Homo sapiens: one gene and its partners. The protein of the gene in region 1 interacts with the protein of each later gene in a pairwise test. Each region holds a gene or a part of one and is shown on either strand. Other genes may lie near its edges.

Region 1 (7,728 bases):
ACAAGCTGTGAGATTGATTTATTGTGCAAAAAGTTAATAGTAATTCTACATATTTATCAACTGGCAGCACAAAAAAAGGATGACAAACTACAAATAAGAATTCTTAATGCTTACAGTGAATGTTCACAAGAATTCCCTAGCCTTAAAAAATTCTTAACGTTTAAAAGATAAAGATGAAACTCAACCACTGCATCATGCCAAAAGAATTAAATTTAAAATCTGAATTTTCATATTAGCAACTTAAGTCATTTAAGTCATTTTTTTTTAAGAGATAGGGGTCTCAATATGTTACTCAGGTTGGAATCAAACTCCTGGGCTCAAGCTGTTCTCCCACCTCAGCCTCCTGAGTAGCTAGGACTATAGGTGCACACCACCACACCTGGCTCAATCATAAAATTTTAATGAGAAACTATTTTCACATTCTATTAATGTATTTCCAATATACCTGGAAATATGTATTTGAAAATAAATATATTTCCAATTTTAAAACAATTTAAATTTCTACTCAACTCTAAAGATGTCATAAAATAATTTATGTGACACTGCAAAACAATATATTTTCAATACAACTACTACTATTGCATTTTGTATCCATTTCAGTCCAAATTTGCAAACACGTCTTCTAATATAAGGACCAGGCAATGACAACTTCATTACGAAGCAGAAAACCTGTGAATAAAGCATGTCAGTATTGCTGCAAAACATGAATGAGGGATCTAGTATTGCACTTAGGGAAAAACTAGTTAAGGATTTTGCCTGGCCTATATATATTACACGTATGCAACAATTTTGCTTAATGTGTTACAGTTTGTGAAATACACTACCGTAATCTTCCATATGTTTAAGTGAAGAACTTTTTATTCTCTTTGACTTTTAAATTCCAAGTAATAACATCTGATTTCAAAAAAGTGGCCCATTACTGTCAGTTATGGCAATGTGTTGTCACCCAAACCCAGGTTTCAACCAAATAAATATTATGTTGATAATGAAGAACATTCTCCAATATATTTCTTCTACCTATGAGATACCTTATTACCACAGCCTTGAAAGCAAGATTTACAAAGGTTCATGTACAAAGTATTTTACTGATTGATTCCAATGCCTGCAGGATACGGCACTCCCCCAAACAATTCTCAATTATTCTCAACTATTAAGAAATGTTCTGAGAACTTAAATTGAGATGGCTGAAAGCATTTCCAAAAGTTAAGATAATTAAAGCAATAATGCCACGGTTAATCAATCAAAATGTACGTGCGTGCACTTATGCAGTATTCTCGTCAAAAATGTATTACCTGAATCTCGTCACGAATATAAAGATATATATATACACATATCTCTATATACCTCATCTATATATCTCATCTATATAAACTCAGATTATGAGTCATATTACAAGACAAAATGAACTACAAAACAAAATATCAATGTCACGACTTTAGAATCTTTAAAAGGGGACGGGACTGTCCTAGATTAAAGGAGATAACTATTAATACATGGATTACTTGGCATATTCAAGGGAGACAGTGTTATCTAATTACATACTAGATCAAAAGCAGACAAAAAAGCATTATTAAAATAACTGGGGAAATTTTAATAATCAACTGTAGCCAAAAACAGACAAAATGCTCGTAAAAGGAACATGGATGTTCAATGTATTACTCTTTCAACTTTTCTGTATGCATGAAATATTCCAAAACAAAAAGCAGAGAAGAAAAACTTAAAAAGTAAATTTTAAATATCCACACAACTTTTATATAGTTATGCAACAGCACTGTTATAACCTGAGATAGAAAACTAAAGAAAAATAGGTCTAAATGCATCACTAGGAAATAAATCAAAATTTTTTTAAAGAAATAAATCTTGGGTAACAATTACCCCTTCCCTCAAAGGATTTTGATATAATGAACAAAAAACGGAGGATCTTAATACTGTAAGATCTACCATTAAAAAAGAAAAAAAGTTTGTGTGCAAGAATGTGAACAACCTACAAACCCCTTGCGAGTTTTCTAAATAATATCGTACGAGGGAAATTTTACCATTCCAAAATACACTATCTGGGAAGTGGCCGCGAGCTGTGAATGCCAGCCAAGATCTGGACTTTAAATGTATACGGGAGGGATAACCCTGCACCGACTTACACTTTTTCTGAAAGCTTTGGGACAGTGTGACCTTTCAGGAGGAAAATTTAATCTGCTGTCAAAAGGGCTAACAGACATGATCTTTGGGAACATGGATGCGCTCGGTTAGATAAACCAAAATGCTAAGTTTGTGCGACCGTCCTGGGAAACAAACACAGCCCCAGTTCCATCTTGTCACCAGCAGCAGGCTTTCTCGTCAGCAAAACGGCCTGACACCAAGGCCTTAAAAACTGGACTGTGGCTCAGGCGCGGTCTCCGCGATTTTCAGAGTGGAAAAACGCTCTGAGACGTTTGCCATGAGGGCTGTTCCGGGCCCACCTGCGGCCATCTTAAGTTCGGGGGGAAATAAGAGGGTGGGGGCACGGAATTCGAAGACCCAGCAGCGAACACAAGTCCCGGAGGCACAGAAAGGGCAACCATTCTAAATCCTTGGTAAGGGCTCCGTGCAGTAGTTAACCCCCCAAATCCGACTAAGGAGAGCAGGACGGCGGAACCCGGGTGCCCTAATCAAATATGGGCACCAAGGTAAGCCGGCGCGATCACGTGACATGCACCGCGCGCCCGCGTCCGCGCTCTCCTCCACGCCTCGGCTCCCGAGGTCTCTATGGCGCCCGCGCCCCTCCCCCAGCCGAGCTCCAGCACTTACTCCGGGGGGTAGAGCCGCAGCTCCTCGATTTCTCCTAGGAAGGAAAAAAGCGTCCGCATCTGCTCGCTGGTCACCGCCGACGACAGATTCGTCACCTGAATCACCGACGTGGGGGTGAGGCCGAAGCCTAAGCCCAAACCGAAGCCGCCGCCGCTGTTCATCCCGATCCCGCTGCCGTTGCCTTCCCGCTCCCCAACGTCTACGACGCGTCAGCGACGGAGCCGGGAAAGCGGAGAACGCGCGGCCGCGAGCGCGCTCCCGCTGGCGAATTCACAGCGCCGGGCAGATCTAGCCGCCCATTTCACAACTCCCCTGCTCCCGGGGCTGCGCGCGCCAGCCGGAAGCGTCGCCCCGGCAACCCGGCGGTTCTCGCGCGGCTGCGGCCTCCAGCTCCCGGGTCCCTGGGGCTGTTGCTGCTCGTTTCACCGCCTGGATTTTTATCGGTGTTTTTGTTTTCCCCAAAAGTCGATGAGAGTCTTGTGCTCATGTCTACCCGGTTCCTTCCGGTCTCGGATTGGGAAACCAAGCGGCCTGGCCTACTGGTGCGGGACTGTAAAGAAGGAATGACTCTTGGACAACACGGAAGAACACTTGACCAAACTATAGGGCAGCCTTATCACATACAGGCAGCACCCCAACTCCAACTATTTTTAAAAGTTGGCAGGCGTCCTAATTGTGAAAAAAACAAAATTTTACAAAATGCGTAGGTTCAGGTTGAATTAAGGAAAGAGGCAGTAAGATGAAGGCTGTGCAGGGGTTGTTTATAACCTGTTTTTAATTCCCTCGTTCCACAGGTGTTGATGTTTATTGAGTGCTATGTCCCAGGCACTATTAGGCAAGGGCACGTAACAGACAGTTAAAGACAGTTCACATAGAACTTGCAACCTAATGAGAGACAACAGTAGTGAGTCCATGGCAGCTGCTCCCAAAATGCCCTCCGCAGATCCCTAAGGGTACCGAGACCTTTTCAGTAAGTTGGCAAGGTCAAAACGATTTTCGTAATAATATTAAGAGTTTCTTGACCTTTTTCACTTTGTTGCCATTTGCACTGGTAACGTAAAAGATTAAACTGCTGACACCTTAGCAGCAATCAAGGCAGTGGCGCCAGTCTTGTACTGGTAGTTGCATTTTGTATTCTTCACATCATACAACATTTAAGGTTTTAAAGTATGCTAGTTTCACTTTAAAAATGTCCTTCACAAATAACTAAAAATTGTATTTTTTTTTCAAATCCATCCTTGCTTACACGTCTTTTAAAGAATATGTGTGAAAAAATGGAAACTACTGCCGCTACATGCCCAAGTGAAATGGTTGTCTCCGGAAAAAGCACTAGTGTAATTCTTTGAATTTTCACCTAAAAATACAAATTTTATTACACTTGTATCCACCAGCTTGAGCTTGACAGCTTGCCAGTACTTAAAGACTTTTCTAGTAAAAGAAGCATTATATTAACAATTTATTTTTGACTATATAATGAAATATGTCAACATTTTTGTGATCTTTACAACTTAGTGGACACCTATTTTTCAAATGGCCAGTGGGTGCCATTACAAAGGCAAAAAGCCTCTGGTATGTGCAAGATAGATTGATGGATTTCAGTGCTTAATTGATGTGGTTTCAGATTCAGTCCACACTGCAATGAAGGCTAAGAAACTACCACATGTAAGTTTGGTACCGTATCAAAGAATAATATCTAGAACTATCTGGAAAGGCTATAAAGTAGTTTTCCCTTTTCCAACACCTTATCTTTATGAGATCAGATTTCCCTCATATATTTCAACCAAAACATATCACAACAGATCGAATACACAGAAAACTCATGATCACAAAGAAGGAAACGTCAGTCACTGTGGTCTACTTGAGGGTGGAGGGTGGAAGGAGGGAGAGGAGCAGAAAAAATTATTGAGCACTGGGCTTAATACCTGGATGATGAAATAATCTGTACAACAAACCCCCATGACATGAATTTATCTATGTAACAAACCTTCACATGTACCCCTGGACCTACAATAAAAGTTGGAAAAAAATAAAGAATACATAGATAGGAGAATTCAGCTGTCTTCTATTAAAGCAGACATTAAAAAGGTTTGAAAAATGTAAAACAATGCCACTCTTCTCACCAATTTTTTGGAAAAATATTTTATCATAAAAATGCATCATTTTGCCTTCAATCTCGGTTTCTAAGAAAAAAATGCGTCATTTCTATTAACATAATGGGCTTATAATTATTTTTAAATGAATCTCAAAATACCAAATTTCTCAGGTTTAATTTATAATGTGGATAGTAATAAAAGCATTTTACAGTCCTTAATAATCTTTAAGAATGTAAAGGGACTCAAGACCAAAATGTTTGAGAATTATTATTACCATAGGTATAAGCATGGAGGAATTCAGAGCACACAGGAGGGCCTCTTAAACTTAGTTCTAATGGAATACTTCCCAGAAGAAATATTGCTTAAGCTGAATATTGAACAAATAGGAATTACCCAGGCAAGGAGGGAAGGAGGAGCAGTGAAGGGCATTCCAGACTGAGCATGTAGAATATGCAAAGGCAGGGTTAAGGTAAAAGAGAGCTCGAGTGAGGTACAGAAGATTCAAAGTCTGTTATTGCTGGGCTGAAAATGACTAGAGATGCATGCAAAGGAATAAGCCTTTATGAAGGGTATTATTTGTCATGGTAGAGATTACTTTATCATAAGCTGGGAGCCACTGAAGACCTCGGAGCTGAAGAGTGACCCTGATCAGATTCATGTTCTAAAATGACTGGCTATGTGCGGTGGCATATGCCTGTAATCCCAGGATTTGGGGAGACTAGGGCAGGAGGATTGCTTGAGCCCAGAAGTTTGAGACCAGCCTGGGCAACATGGAGAGACCCCGTTTCTACCAAACAATAACAACAAAAAAGTAGCCAGGCATGGTGGTGCATGCTTGTAGTCCCAGCTACTGGGGAGGCTGAGACGGGAGGACTGCTTGAGCCTGGGGGTTCGAGGCTACAGTGAAAATGAGTTGTGATTGTGCCACTGCACTCCAGCCTGAGTGACAGAGTAAGACCCTGTCTCAAAAAAGAAAGGAAGGAAGGAAGGAAAGAAAGAAAGTGATGACTGTCACTGCAACCTGGAGATACATTGGAAAGGGTTCAGACTAGAGGCAAAGAAACTGGGTAGGTTATTGCAATAATCTGAATAAGCTATAATGAGGTCATGAACAAAGGTAAGAGGTGGTAGTAATGGAAAGCAAGGAACAGCCCCAAATTTGAGAATCACTGAACTCATTTGAAGATAAAAGGAATAAAAGCTGTCCACTCAGAAAAATATATATGGACATAAACTCACTTTTAGCTACAATTACTGATGCTTTCTGGTCCTCCTGAAGTCCAACCATAGATCTCTCGGATTAACAACTAGTTTTGAACAATTCTCAGACTTTAGTGTGCATCAGAATCAGCCCGTGGGCATGTTACAACAAATTGCTGGTCCCATCCCCAGAGTTTCTAGTTCAATAAGTCTGGAGTGGGGCCTGAAATTTTAATTTCTAACAAGTTCCCAGGTGAGCTCCTTCTTGTGGTCTGCAAACCCCATGTTGAGAACCACTGGTTTAGAAGGTTGTAAAAGCAGTATTCTTAATGGACTTAATCTACTCTTAATAGTAAAGCAGAAGGAGGAGTTTAGATTTATGTCTTGGAGAATTAAGTAAACAGTGTCATAATTTAGGTCCAAAAATATGAAGGAAGAGCAGCTTTGGGAGGAAAGAGCAGAAAATATTGAGATCCCTTATGGACAACATTCTGAAATGAAATTTAGGAAAAATGTCTAGAACTAAGATATAGCACTTGACTTAAGATTGGGAGGAGATATAGATACACCAGGAATGTTTGTAGCAGGAAAAGTGCTGTGGACAACATTAAACAGACAAATACAACAAATAGCCAAAAAAAAAAAATCAAGCCCCAAGGAAAACTGGGAGGGAGGATAGTCACAAAATTTAAAGGAAGAAAAAGGTTTTGGCTCTAGGGGGTATTGTTGTTTTTGTTGTTGTTGTTATAGAGATGAGGTCTCACTATGCTGCCCAGGCTGGTTTCAAACTCTTTCGTGTGGAGAAGAGGTAACAGTATCCCTCTATAAATCTCTCAGGGAAACTTACCAAACCTGGGCCTGTTCCAGCCCTGCCACTCTGGCCAATGTGACTGTTCTACCATGGACTTCTGAGATACATTTTAAAATTCCAACCTCCATGCCATGTTCTGCTTCCAAACTCTGTAATCATTCTCACGGCTCCAATTTTCAGCTATTTCTTTATCTCCAGGCCTCTTGATTTCATCTGCATGCTAACCCAACACCTTCAAATACAACATCATAGGAATAGTGATGGCAAAGTTTCAGTGAAAAAAATAAAAAGAGCTCCTCACAAGGAGGCTCAGGCCCATAAGAGCCAACCAGAAACCAAAAATTCAAAAAAGTAAACCCCAGTAAATACAGCAACAGAAAAAACCAAGAGAAAGATGTACATGATAGATTTTAGGTACTTACTAGACTGAGAACCAGGAGGTGACTTTGGAGAGAGCAGTTCTGGGGTGTACAGGGACAGGAAGAGAATGCTAGAGCTGGGAAAGTATATAAGATAAGTGTGGGATGTACTTACAAGAAGAGGCTTTGATGACTGTTAGTCTTCTTGTTTTGGTTTTGAATGAGTGGGATCTGCTATGAATCTACTCTATGGAATCTGAAAGGAAATTTTGACAGTAGAGAATAATTTAGGAGTAATTTCAGGTAAGGAAAGATCTGTAAGTAGTCTTATGTTTGAAAGAGGAGTGCTGATTATATTCTTAAGAAGAAAGCTAAATAGGTTGTCCTAGAAATAATCAGAAAAAGAGTGAGAACTGTGCATACATAAGTGTGCGTGTGTGTGTGTGCATGCACATGTGTAATGTGTTTTGGAGTAGTACTC
Region 2 (7,034 bases), on another chromosome or scaffold:
CCCCATCTGCTCATCTGTTTATGCATATTGTTTACCTTTTCCACAAGATCCTTTAGCATATCAATTATAGTTATCTGCAAGTTCGATACCTGGACCATCTAAGTTTGGCTTTGTTTTCTGTTGTAGTGTTTGGCTATGGAGTCGCTTTTTTTTATGTCTTACTATAATAACAGTAGAGATGGAAGTAAATATTTCTGCCTGGGATAGGCACCGTTACTTTGTGGCATTGAGTTAGTCTAGTTTGTAGTTGAGCTGGGTTTGGCGTTGGTTGCTGTATTTGTTTTCAGTGCACTTTACAAACTTTTCCCAGATTTTGTGGCTACTTGCTTAGCTGAAGCCTGGAGTCTCGAAAGGTTTTTCTCCAGCCTGGGAGGCCTGTGCCACCGATGGAGGTCTTCAGCCAAGGCTTCGTCCCTCCCTCAGGGGTAGACTGCTGATGCTTGTTCCCTGGTGCAAGAGATGAGGCAGGGGCTTTTCATTTCTTCCACTGCAGCCTTGTATTTAGGCCCCATGTGTCTGAGCGTCAGCATTCCTGCTCTTTCGCTGTCTGTGCTCCCTCTCCAGTGGCAATAATCGTTGCCTCCAACTTAGGGGTGCGTTTAGGTTCCTGGCCCTAACCTGTGGCAGCTGCATTCTGCGTGAGTGTCTGTGGTAGGTCTTGGGTGTAGCGTCCTGCCCTCCTCCAGCACCTGCAGACCAGCTTTGTATCAGTGCAGGATATCTGGCAGTAGGGGGTTTGCTTCCCCTTCCACAGAATAAGATGCATTCGCCTAGTGTCAGTGCCGAGTGAAGGGAGCAGGTTCTATCCCTGCCCTAGAGGCAGGCAACTTTTGCTTGTATCAAGGCAGGGACAAGGGTGAGAGTGTGGGAGGGGCAGACAGCTTTGGCTTCCTGTCGGAGAAGGGTCCAGGGGGACAGGCACGTTTTGGCAGTTGATCACCATCTTGTACTCCTGCAGGGCATGGCTGGGCCTCTCTAGTTAGTCCTGCTGCCCTGGGTGCCTGCGCCTCTGAAGATCTCCTGCCCTGGCCACAGTCTCTCTCGAGAGCACCGGGGCAGGCTTGAAGAAAAGAGCTGGTGAATGGATGTGGACTCCCTCAGCAAGCTGTGAGGCTAGCCCACCTTGGTCTTTAAAAACTTGTCAAAATGCCATTTTTAAAACTGCTTTTTGGGTGACCATGTCTTGCTCCTGTGCCAGAAGTAGAACAGATAAGTGGCCTTTCCATTCTTGGAGCGCCTTCCTTCCTTTTAGAATTCAGGTTGCATTGTGACCTCAGTTCTGATGCTCCCCCCACCCACCGCACAACAGTTTAGGATTTTGTAGATTTTTCAGCCTTTCCTCTTTGTATGACAATAACGATCTCCTATGGTTTTCTATGTCCTAATGAGCAACTGAAACGATACATATCTAAATGCCTTTATTTTGTCCTCATATTTCATTGATGGTTTGACTGAGGGTAGAATTCGAGCCTGGAAGATATTTCCATTCAAAATTTTAAAGGTATCTATCTATTGTCCCAGAAGCTAGAGCTTCCAGTATTGCTGTTGAGAAATCTGAAACCATTCTGAATCCTGTTTATTTATACAGGAACTGTTTCTCTCTATGGAAGTGTGTAGGATCAGTGGCTCTAGCATTCTGAAATTTCACAGTTTTGATAGGAGTCTATTTTCATCCTTGTGCTGGGCACTTGCTGGACCTCCTGTGCAATCTGGAAATCATGTTCTTCAGTTCTGGGAAATTTTCTAGAATATTCTGTGGATTATTTCGTCCCTTTCTGTTTTCTGTTCTTTTTTTAGATATTGAACTTCCTGGACTTTCTTGAAAGCATCTTTTCTCTCCTAAGGATTTTCTATGATTTTGGATTGAGTTTTTTTTTTTAAATGTCCCCTTTGTGTGTGTGTGTGTGTGTGTGTGTGTGTGTGTGTGTGTGTGTTTTAGAGACAAATCCTCGCTCTTGCCCAGGCTAGGGTGCAGTGGCGTGATTATAGCTCACTATAACTTCAAAATACTGGGCTCAAGTGATCCTCTCATCTCAGCCTCCAGAGAAGCTGGGACGATAGGTGTGCACCACCATGCCCTGATAATTTTTTAAATTTCCTTGTAGAGACAGGGTCTTGCTATGTTGTACCAGGCTGGTCTCAAGCTCCTGGCCTCAAGCAATCCTCCTGCCTCAGCCTCCCAAAGTGTTGGGATTACAGGCATGAGCCACCAAGCCTGGTCAGAATGTCCCCTTTTTAATAATATCCTGTTCTTATAATACTACTATCTTCTTAAGATATTGCTGAAAACTCTTTTAAAAGTTTTCTTCTACCTGTGTAATTTTGTTTTCTCCAATTTCCTCCTCCCACTCCATTTGTTTTGGTCTTGATCTTTAGTGTAGAGGTTTCCCCAACTGTCTGATGATTCTTAGATCCCTATTTATGTTTAAGGATAAGAAATCAAAATTGGGTTTAAAGCTCTAAGCCCATGAGTGGTGCTGTTGACTGAACTTCACCATAAGGTGATTTGGCCAAGCCATTTCATTAAGGAATCTCTGATATATTTTCAGATCTTTCCTCCTGGGCTGGCCAGATTCTGCAGAGAACATCTTCCAGTTGTCTGATGCATAGTGAGGGCCTGGCCAGCATTCTAGGACCTGAGGGGGCAGGTAGAGAGGAGTCGCAGCACCCAGGGTGCACACATGTTCGCTGAATCCCCTTTGTCAGTAGGACTAATGTCTGCTGTGTCCTGTGCCTCCCAATTCAGAGACGCACTATTTTACCTTCTCCAGAAAAGCAGTTCTAGTCTTTTCCTGTTCAGGACATAGGAAAGTGGCCTGGGGATGTGACTGTTTCTTAAACACTGAACACATCCTCTTTGGTTTAGCCTCACTTTTCACTCCACTTACCAGAGTAACTTTTGCAGCCACTTCCTTTGGTTCCGGGGGATTTTGCAGCATAAATCAAATTGTTTCCTGGCTTTCCCTTTGTCAACTTAAAATTCTCATGACTTGAGTCAACTTGGTTTTCATCTGATTTTCAGATTCTGTATTTTATTGCTGTTGTCTGCCCCCAGTGTTCTCCATTCTTTTGGGGTTTTGCCCTTGAAAAATCCTTTACTGTTATAGTGAGATTCTTAGGGAGAGAAAGTAGAGTTTATATGTGCAAATCTGCCATTTTTACCCAGAACTCCAAAACAGTAATCTTAGTGCAAAAAAAAATCTCCCTCTGAGATTCCCAAGCCCCCTATCCAGGCTCTGATACAGGGGCACCTCCATTATTAGAGAATCCATTTGGTAATAGTGGCATTATTTTAAGAACTGCTGTCATTGAGAAACTTATGAAATTTGCAAAAGGAAGAACTAATTTTCTTTTTTAAACCATATCAGGCCCAAGTCTGTTTTGGTGGTCTGAGAGGAAAAAAGATGAGCTTCTAAAGTTTTGGGAAAATTATATTTTAATTATGGAGACTTTAGAAGGAAATCAGGTAAGTGTTTTTCTATTTTAGCAAATCCTACAGTAGATAACAATTTTTCTTTTTTAAAAACATTCATTAAAAGCGATACAAAGAGACTAACTCAGATATAGCTGGTGATGATAGAATCCAAGTATACTTTGTTGTCTGGCATAAATGCAACTTAGAGTGTAAGTTGTTTCAGGAAGTTAAAGAATACTTTCAGTTGACAAATTATTCAAAAATTTGATCTTCCCTTGCCATTCTAAAACTTTAACGTTTATCAGTATCAGTATCACCCAAATGGCTTATTATAAAGTATAAATTGCCATGCCCTGTCCTCAGACTTTCTGGTTCAGTAGGTCGGGGTGGGGCCTGGGACTTTTGAGTTTTTTTTTTTTTTTTTTTTTTTTTTTTGGAGACAGAGTCTTGCTCTCTCGCCCAGGCTGGGGTTCAGTGGCACGATCTCAGCTCACTGCAACATCCGCCTCCTGGGTTCAAGTGATTCTCCTGCCTCAGCCTCCCAAGTAGCTGGGACTACAGCCACGACACTGGCTAATTTTTGTATTTTTAGTAGAGATGGGGTTCCACCATGTTGGCCAGGCTGGTCTTGCACTCCTGACCTCAAGTAATCCACCCGCCTTGGCCTCCCAAAGTGCTGGGATTACAGGCGTGAGCCACCGCACCCGTCCAGGACTTTTGAGTTTTTTACAAGTTCCCAGGTGATATGTATGCTGCTGTTCTGGGAACTACACTTTGAGAACCATGGTTTCCATTCTGCAAGTTGGGGACCACAGAGGTGCCAGCCATCTGTGGAGTCATTGTGAGGTGTCAATCCAAATGTGCACCAAACCTTGTTTGTGGACTTAAATAATTACTTATATGTGCTAAATATATATAGATGCAAGGATGAGGAGTAAAGAAAAAGCATTTCTAAATTCAAATTAACTTTTATGGTTTTCTTTAATCAGTAGATCCATAAAACCCCCATTATTTATTTAGAAACCCAAATTTATCCATATTTTGAAGGATATGTAAATTAATCTCAAGCAAACGTGTCAGCAACTTTGGCTATGTGGTATTAAGAACATGGAACTCCGAACTGGCCGTTCTAAGCGTGTGCAGCCATGAACAACTTGAGTGACTAGAGAAAACATTTCAGTGTCTTTTTTCTCTTTGTAATATCTTAGTATTGGCAGTCCTACCTGCCTGCCAGGACAGTTGAGGATTCTATGACATGATTTATGATAATCACTGTATAAATGGTAGACTTTAATGTAGCTGTAATGTGGTTATATTCATTAGCTTTGCCATACTCAGTCTTACATACCTGAATCATACTATTGTTTGAAAAACTGGATAAATCAGGCTCTTTCTACATATGTTTTGTAGAAACAGAAGAGCTACTGTGAAATAAAGAGATGAAAATTGCCTGACATTTTTCAAGATGCATTTTCATTTCATATGATTTTTTTGCTCTTATTTTTAGATACATGTTATAAAGCCAGTTTTACCAAAGCTAAACAATCTGTTTGAATATGCGGTGTCAGAGGAAAATGGTAACGATTACTTTTATTTTATTTTTTAATAACATTTATGGTTTTCCCCTGATTTTGTAACTAATTCCTGTTCATTGTAGAGAATTTTGAAAAACTATAAAAGTGTACAGAAGAAAATATAATCATCTTGTAATGCTGCCACCAAGAGATAACAGTTGTTACCATTCCAGATACACACCTTCTGGATCATGTTGTTCATGTTTATCTCACTTAGCATAATAACTATATGCATCTACTCATATCCTTAAATCGTCTTTAAGAGCACAATTTTGGGCCAGGCGTGGTGGCTTATGCCTGTAATCCCAGCACTTTGGGAGGCAGAGGTGGGCGGATCACCTGAGGTCAGGAGTTCAAGACCAGCCTGGCCAACATAGTGAAACTCCGTCTCTACTAAAAATACAAAAATTAGCCAGGCATGGTGGTGTGTGCCTGTAGTCCCAGCTACTCGAGAGGCTGAGGCAAGAGAATCACTCGAATCCAGGAGGCGGAGGTTGCAGTGAGCCAAGATCACACTGCTGCACTCCAGGCTGGTGACAGAGCAAGACTCCGTCTCAAAAAAAAAAAAAAGAACACAATTTAAAATAGCCACAGAATTTTCTACAATTAAGAGATAAGGTTAATTTTTTAAACCGTTGATGATGGAGAATTTCAAACATTTATAGAATGAGAAGAGTGTGTGTGACGCACCTACCACCCTCTTTAATAACGATCGTCTCACGGCCAGCCTTGCTTAGTGTATCCTATGTAGCCTTCCCTGTTCCCTTCTTGCTAAATGGTTTTGAAGCACATCCCTAGATATCCTATCATTTTATCTGTGAATATTTCAGCACATTTCTTTAAAAGATAAGGACTCGTCGATAGGGTTTCAATGATGACATAGTCTGTGGTTTTAATAATTGCTCTTTTTTTTTGTTTTTGAGATGTGGAGTCTTGCAATCTGTTGCCCAGGCTGGAGTGCAGTGGGATGATCTCGGCTCACTGCAACCTCTGCTTCCCGGGTTCAGGCAATTTTTTTGCCTCGGCCTCCCAAGCAGCTGAGATTACAGGCATGCGCCACCACACCTGGCTAATTTTTGTATTTTTAGTAGAGACGGGGTTTTGCCACGTTGGCCAGGCTGGTCTCAAACTCCTAACCTCAGGTGATCCACCTGCCTCAGCCTCCCAAAGTGCTGGGATTACAGGTGTGAGCCACCGTGCCTGGCCAATAATCACTCTTTGGTATGAATATATCTTTTTAACTGGTTTCCATTCTTATTCTCTTAGTATATCTTTTCCAGTGTTTCTTAAGTTTTCAGTTATTGTTCTGTATCTTGTACTTCTTAGGAAGAGAAAATTCCGGGATATAATTTCAAATGTGTTTATAAGCCCTTGATCACTATATTATGAGAGCTTTTTAGGAGATACACAATGAAGCTGGAGCTTCCTAAATGTATTTTATAAAATTAAGTTTAATGAAATAGCTAAATGCAGCCCAATAGTGTTTTGGCCTGTGTTCATATGAATGATAAAATGCCACATTATTGTGTTTACACATGAGAATTAACCTAGGTAAATGGTTTTTAGTGCCTACTCTAGATAATTACAGTTTAATAGTTTGACCCCTTAGGAATTGAGCTTTATTCAGCTGATTGCTGTAGTTGTTTTCTGATACACTGGGATTTTTCACAGACCATAAGCATCTGTAGTTGCACCTGGGGCTAGAATTTAATTGAATCTTGTTGTGACTTCACTTATTCATTTACCATTAAAATGATGCTCTTATTACCACATTTTGCCCACAGCTCTTGAGAAACCAAATCAAATAGCAGTGACTGATTTTGAAAAATTACCATTGCCAAAGAGTTGAACAAGCATCTTGGTGTAAATTACAAATAATGGATTAATTTATTTATAGAATGTCATGAGTTAAAAATGCTGAGTATTTTTCTCTAATAGAAGTAAAAGATATTTCAAAAGAGTTAGAAAAATATCTCTAAGATATTTATTTATTCCATGGTTTTGATTTGCTCACTCATTTATATATTTACTGAATAAATATTTAC
Region 3 (7,034 bases), on another chromosome or scaffold:
GCCTGAAATAGGGAATGCGGACCCAGGCCAGTGTGCGTGGCCGGCCCGTGTGGCCCCCATGCTGCTTAGGAAGTCCCCGTCCAGGAGCACTGGAAGTTGCTGTGAGAGCCAACTAGGGTTGGCGGCCTGAGGGACAGTCACCCAGCCACAGAACGACGGCACGGAAGACATGAGGCAGCATGCTCACGAGAGAGGTGAGGGTCTCACCTCCAGGGGCGGGAAGGAGAGAAAGTGGGCAGACAAGGTGTAGCAGTGGTGACAAGCATGAGGGAGAGGTGTGGCCTAGTCCCCAAACTACATAGGAAACACCAGACTTCCCAAGAAAGCCTAAAAACCAACAGACACCATGACATGCGAAGCCTCCACGATCCTGTCCTCCCCACCTCCTGCCCCAACTCCCCTGGGGGCCCTGCCTAAGCCTCAGGACAAGACATGCCCTGCTCCAGGACCTCTGGGCCTTAAGCACAGCCTCAGGCCCTCCCGCCCCCCAGGCGCTCTCCAGGCCTACGACGCCATCCCTGCCTCCTGTCTTTAGGGGTCTGTGAACTCCAGAAAGGCACGGCCAGGCCTCCTCCTCTATCCTCAGGGCCTCCCCAGGGCCTGGCATTCAGAGACAGCAGGAGGTGGAGGGGCCCTGGGGATGGGACAGCTGCCGCCCTGAGTTCTCCACACTACTCAGTGTGGCTGGCCCTGCCGCCAGCTCCAGCGTTTTGCAGAGGGAAACAAGTCCAGCTCCATGGCCACAGGGCACCGGGGCCAGGCCGTGGACAGAGGTGGGGGCTGCTGCCCCTCCCCAGTGTCTCAGGACTGACCTGATCACATGGCAGTGCCCCCGCCTTACCCAAGCTGGCTTCTAGCTCCTGTGCAGTCAGAGGCAGTGGTGTGGGACGTGGGGAGAGAGGAGGACGAGGGGTGGGGTGGGGGTGGGGTGCGCTTACCGCGGAGGCGCTGGCCGAGAGAATGTAATTACGAGGTCTAGTCTCCTGAAAGTCAGGCACCGTCTGGCGGGGAACAGAGTTCATGTGGGGAGGGGGTCACCCTGGGCCAGGGCCAGGGTCGAGGTCAGGAGGCTACCCCAGAGTCTTGCACAAGGAGATGCCAAGAGGCCTGACCCCAGGGACGGGGATACAAACACAACACAAACCCCCTTCTCCCGACTCCAACCACCTGGAGATGAGGGGCCTAGGGACTTGGAGAGTCCAGACAAAGATCAAGTGGCTGCAGGCACTGGAGCTCAGGAGAGCAAATGCGGTGAGGAGATGGCCGAGGCTGCCTGAGCAAGTCACAGGCTGGGCTCTCCCCTGCCAGGGGCCACAGCCCCCTCCTCCCCAGACCAGTGGCACTCAGATGCCCCAGGGTCCCGCAAACACAGCCCACCCCCAACTGGGATGGCTTTTTCCATCCCAGAATCCGCACACCACATCTCTTGCTCCTGCATCAAGGGCCAGGCCCCTCCCGACAATGAAGGTGGACAGATGGATGCATGGGCAGACAGAGTGACAGGCGTCCAACATTTGCAAAAAGCTGACTCACAGGCCCCAACGCCTGGCATCCCCCCCTAAACCAGAGGCCCTGCACAGTAGAGGCTCTGGCGGGGAGACCAGCTGCTTGCAAAATGCCCCAAGGACGTGGGCTGGCCATGGCACCGTGGGTCCACGGGCAAGATGGGCAGACCGGAAGCAGCACAGCGCGTGGGACAGGTATACTCACATCTCCCTCACACTGAGCCAAGTTACCCAAAGCAGGACGGAAAGGAACAAAAACAAAGAGTTAGTGAGTCCACAGCGCAGGCAGGAGCAGGCCCCCCAGGCCCCAGTGGGAGGGGACACCAGGCGGTCGGGCGGAGGGAGGCACCACAGCCTGCCCTCCTGAAGAGTCCTAACGTGTGCGTGCTTATGGGGACAGAGCTGTGGAGCTTGAGTCCTCTGGAATGCTGTTCCTGGGGCTGCCCAAGTCCTAGCTCTGGAAAGGTGGCCTGGCCCAACCCCAGGATGTGAGGTTGTCCAGGCCCACCAGGTGAGGGAGAGGCCACACCACTGCAATGACAGGAAAGGCTCCTCTGGCCTGGCTGATGGAGAGAGTGTGTTCTGGCTGAGTTACTCCAGAGACGGTGTCTGGCCCGAAGTGACGGGGGAGACTGTCCTGTTCAGGTGCCTTAGAAGAGGTCATCCCAATAGGCACAGGTCACCCTAGCCAACCCCAAGATTGAAACAACTACACCCCTGCCTCTGATCTAGACCCCACACACTTGAGTGACCTGAGACGGTTCTCGCCAGGGGCAGTGCTGGCTCTGGGGCCACACTATGGGAGGGGAACGCAAGGTGCATGGGCAGCTGTGAGCCCAGGCTAGGCCTGGCCTCCCTCGGCTAATCAGCTGGCAGCCACAGGTAGCCATCTCCCTAGTAGGCCTGGGCCTGGGAGTTCCCTCTGCAAGGTATGAGGCAGCCTTTAGGCCTGGCAGCCCTGAGCAACCTCTTGTGCCAGGAGGGTGTTCACCCTTGGGCCCAGCTCCTCCAATCCTGGCCTCGCCCTGGGCACACTGTCCCAGGCTGCGTCCCATTGACCCAGCCAGGCTGAACAGGCCTCAGTGAGCTGGGAGTGAAGGGGGCGCCAGATGGCCCAGGCCCTATCCAATCTCATGGGACCCCTCGGACACGGCCCTGAGCAAGCGGGCGGTCCAGCTCCCAGGTTTTCCACACCATCGTGGGGGCGCCTGAGCACAGGGACCCTCGGCCTGACGTTCAAGCAGCAAGTAGTAGAGTTAGTAAGAAGGTGCCATGCCCGGGCAGAGCCGGGGACAGAGCCGAGCATCTAGGAGGGCAGGGCAGGGCATGCAGGAGACTCCAGCTGCCTGGCGGGGTGGTGCACCCAGCTGGGGGCACTGCTGGTCCGCCCACACCGTAGATATCTCCCTGGGAACCAGAGCTCGGGGGCCACCAAGGCTCCCTTGAGGGCAGGGACAGAGAGGCTCAGCCCAGCAGCCCCCAGCCAGGCATCTCCAGCCAGGGAGAGGGGAGAGAGGTCATGCCAAATACCAGGTCCCTTCATGCCACCACCCCTTGGCTCCAGCCAGAGCCTGGGCCAGGAGGCCAGCGGGGAGCGGGGACACCTACCGTGGCTTTGGCTTCTGCAGCCTTGGCCTTCTTCAGCCTCGCTTTGCAGGCATCCAAGTCCAGACGCCGGTTTTGGAGGAGCCGCCTCTCCTTCTACAGGGCAGGGCATGGGGACAGTGAGACCCTGGGCTGCCCTGGGAGACCCTGAGCCATGCATGGCAAGATTGGTGCCGGGGACGATCAAGTCAAGATAGGGAAACTGAGGCCCAGAGATAGGAGGTCACTCAGTCCAAAGGAGCCCTCTCTGGGGAGGCCTCAGGAGTTTTGTAGCCCCAGCACTGGAAGAGAGCCTGTACTCAAAGGCTCTGAGGAGGGAACTGCCATGGTTACCAGGAAGCGGAATAGTCCCAGGGCCCTCACCGAGATGGTCTTCCAGTCCCCCTCCAGGAAGTTGCGCAAGGGTGTGAGGAAGCTGATGGAGGCCGTGTGGATAAAATCCCTCTCCGCGGCTCCCAGTTGCTTTTCAGCTTCTGCCACCTTGATCAGTGTCTTCCCTGAGAAAACAGAGTTGAAGCGTGAGGAAGAAGGTCAGGCTCAGGCTACTCTGATCTACAGGAGAGGGCTCAGGAAGAGCTTGCTGAAGAGCAAGGGCCGGGGTGCTCAGTGCAGAATGCTTTGCCTGGGAAAAAGCAGAAGCAACCTACACTACACCATCAACTGGGAACTAACAAATAAACAATGGGACAGCCAAAATATGGAACACAATGCAGCCATTATAAAGATCGGGGTTAGACTTCCAGAATGTCAGAGAAAGGAGCTCAACAAATCCCCTCCCAAAAAAAGTAACAATAAAACTGGACACCACGCCAGGTGCGGTGGCTCACACCTATAATCCTAGCACTCTGGGAGGCCGAGACGGGAGGATCACTTGAGCTCGGCAGTTCCAGACCACCCTGGGCAACATAGGGAGACCTTATCTCTTTGAAAATAAAACAAATTGAAAGAAAACTGGACACAATTGTCAAAAACATCCATTTCTGGACTCTGCAAATTGACCAAGGCAAAAAACAAATTGAAAAGCATTTAATCAAGAAAAACTACTGGGCTGGATGCTGTGGCTCACACCTGTAATCTCAGCACTTTGGAAAACCAAGGTGGGCAGACTGCTTGAACCCAGCTGTTCAAGACCAGCCCGGGCAACATGGCAAAACCTTGTCTTTATAAAAAATAAATAGAAAATCATAAGAAAAATGAGCAGCGCCTCAGCACCTACGGGGCACTGTCAAGTGAACCAACATATGACTAACAAGAGTCCCAGAAGAGGAGGAGAAAATAAGGCAGAAAAAATATGTGAAGAAACAATAAGAGGCTGGGCGCGCTGGCTCACACCTGTAATCCCAATACTCTGGGAGGCCCAGGCGGAAGGATCATTTGAACCCAGGAGTTTGAGGCTATAGTAGTAAGCTATGATTGCACCACTGCACTCCAGTCTGGGTGACACAGCAAGATCCTGTCTTTAAAAAAAAGAAAAGAAAAGAAAAAACATGGTTTGATTCATCACATACAAGAGAGCTAAAATAAGATGAATTGTCTTCTCATTAGAAACAATAGAAGCCAGACAGCAGTAAGATAATATATTCAAAGTAAAGAAAAAATTGTTCATCCAGGAATTCTATATATAGCAAAACAATCCTTCAAAAGTGAAGGCAAGGCCGGGCGCAGTGGCTCACGCCTGTAATTCTAGCACTTTGGGAGGCTAAAGTGGGTGGGTCACTTGAGGTCAGGAGTTCGAGACCAACCTGGACAACATGGCAAAACCTCGTCTCTACTAAAAATACAAAAATTAGCTGGGTGTGGTGGTGTGCATCTGTAATTCCAGCTACTTGGGAGACTGAGGCAGGAGAATTGCTTGAACCCAGGAGGCAGAGGTTGCAGTGAGCCAACGTCACACCACTGTACTCCAGCCTGGGCAACAAGAGCAAGACTGTCTTTAAAAAAAAAAAAAAAAAAAAAAAAAAAAAAAGATACGGCCGGGTGCGGTGGCTCACACCTGTAATCCCAGCACTTTGGAAGGCTGAGGCAGGCGGATCATGAGGTCAGGAGTTCAAGACCAGCCTAACCAACTTGGTGAAACCTGTCTCTACTAAAAATACAAAAATTAGCCAGGCGTGGTGGCAAGCACCTGTAATCCCAGCTACTCAGGAGGCTGAGGTAGGATAATCGCTTGAAACCGGGAGGTGGAGGTCGCAGTGAACCAAGATCGCACCACTGCACTCCCGCCTGGGTGACAGAAAAAAAAAAAAATCCAAAGATACACTTTAAATTTAAAGACATGAATGGGCTGAAAAAAGTACACCATGTATGCAGTAACCACGAGAGAGTTAACGTGGCTATACTACTACCAGACAAAATAGACTTTAACACAAAATAGTACTAGAGACAAAGAATAGTATTTTATAATGAAAGAGTCAATTCATCAGGAAGATGCACAAATATAAACATACAGACCTAAGACAGTTCCAAAATACATAAGGCAAACACTGACAAAGAGAGAAATAAGATAATTCAACAGTAATAGTTGGAAACTTGAATACTCTGCTCTTTTTTTTTTTTTTTTTTTTTGGTCTCACTCTGTCTCCCAGGCTGGAGTGCAGTGGCGCGCTCTTGGCTCGCTGCAACCTACGCCTCCCGGGTTCCAGCAATTCTCCTGCCTCAGCCTCCCAAGTAGCTGGGACTATAGGCGCGCACCAGCATGCCCAGCTAATTTTTTTGTATTTTTAGTAGAGACAGGATTTCACCATGTTGGCCAGGCTGGTCTTGAACTCCTGACCTCAGGTGATCCAACCACTTTGACCTCCCAAAGTGGCGGGATTACAGGTGTGAGCCACCATGCCCAGCCTCAATAGTCTACTCTTGATAATGAATAGGACAAGACAAAATCAGCAAGGACATACAAGCCTTGAACACTATTAACCGATGTGGCCTCGCTGACACCTATACAGCACTGCACCCTCAACAGCATAATATCACATCTTCTCAAGTGAACCTAGGACATTCCCCAGATAGACCATATACTAGGTCATGAAACAAGTCTCAATAAATTTAAAAGGATTAAAACAATAAAAATATGAGGCTGGGTGTGCTGGCTCATGCCTGTAATCCCAGCACTTTGGGAGGCTAAGGCAGGCGGATCACTTGAGATCAGGAGTTTGAGACCAGCCTGGCCAACATGGTGAGACCCCCATCTCTATTAAAAATACAAAAAATACGCCGGGTGTGATGGCTCACACCTGTAATCCCAGCACTCTGGGAGGCCAAGGTGGGTGGATCACGAGGTCAGGAGATCGACTATCCTGGCTAACACGGTGAAATCCCGTCTCCACTGAAAAAAAAAAAAATTAGCCTGGCATGGTGGCAGGTGCCTGTAGTCCCAGCTACTTGGGAGGCTGAGGCAGGAGAATGGCATGAACACGAGAGGCGGAGGTTGCAGTGAGCCGAGATCGTGCCACTGCACTCCAGCCTGGGCGACAGAGCGAGATTCCGTCTCAAACAAAAAAAAAAAAAAAAAAAATTAGCTGGGTGTGATTATAGGTGCGTGATGGTGCGTGCCTGTAATCTCAGCTACTCAGAAGGCTGAGAGGCTGAGGTGGAGGATCCCTTGAACCTGGGAAGTGGAGCTTGCAGTGAGCCCAGATGGCACCATTGCACTCCAGCCTGGGCGACAGAGCGAGACTCCATCTCAAAATAATAATAATACTAACATAGCACGACATGTTCATACATTCTCTGATCGCAGTGGAATTAAGTTAAAAGCAACAATAGAAGAAAACCCAGAAAATCCACAAATATCTGAAAATGAAACAACACACTACTGACAGGAATAAAAAAATCATACAGCTACTTTGGAAAACAGTTTGGCAACTTCTTAAAAAGTTAAATTAAATTGGCTGGGCGCAGTGGCTCACGCCTGTAATCCCAGCA

The links. The genes of interacting proteins can lie anywhere in the genome.
Region 2: the proteins of SREK1 (region 1) and TARBP1 interact in a two-hybrid assay, tested with the Homo sapiens proteins (one study listed by BioGRID).
Region 3: the proteins of SREK1 (region 1) and SH3GLB2 interact in a two-hybrid assay, tested with the Homo sapiens proteins (one study listed by BioGRID).

The regions. Positions count from the first base shown.
Region 1 is NC_000005.10:66,139,594-66,147,321, reverse strand, and holds the start of SREK1 (splicing regulatory glutamine/lysine-rich protein 1), read right to left. Parts: upstream 3,023-7,728; 5' UTR 2,946-3,022; coding exon 2,785-2,945; intron 2,488-2,784; exon of another isoform or gene 2,139-2,487; intron 1-2,138. UniProt on the Homo sapiens protein: Participates in the regulation of alternative splicing by modulating the activity of other splice facors. Inhibits the splicing activity of SFRS1, SFRS2 and SFRS6. Augments the splicing activity of SFRS3.
Region 2 is NC_000001.11:234,469,146-234,476,179, reverse strand, and holds part of TARBP1 (tRNA (guanosine(18)-2'-O)-methyltransferase TARBP1), read left to right. Parts: intron 1-3,368; coding exon 3,369-3,466; intron 3,467-4,922; coding exon 4,923-4,992; intron 4,993-7,034.
Region 3 is NC_000009.12:129,011,298-129,018,331, forward strand, and holds part of SH3GLB2 (endophilin-B2), read right to left. Parts: intron 4,563-7,034; exon of another isoform or gene 4,443-4,562; intron 3,608-4,442; coding exon 3,474-3,607; intron 3,207-3,473; coding exon 3,114-3,206; intron 1,723-3,113; coding exon of another isoform or gene 1,711-1,722; intron 1,002-1,710; coding exon 939-1,001; intron 1-938.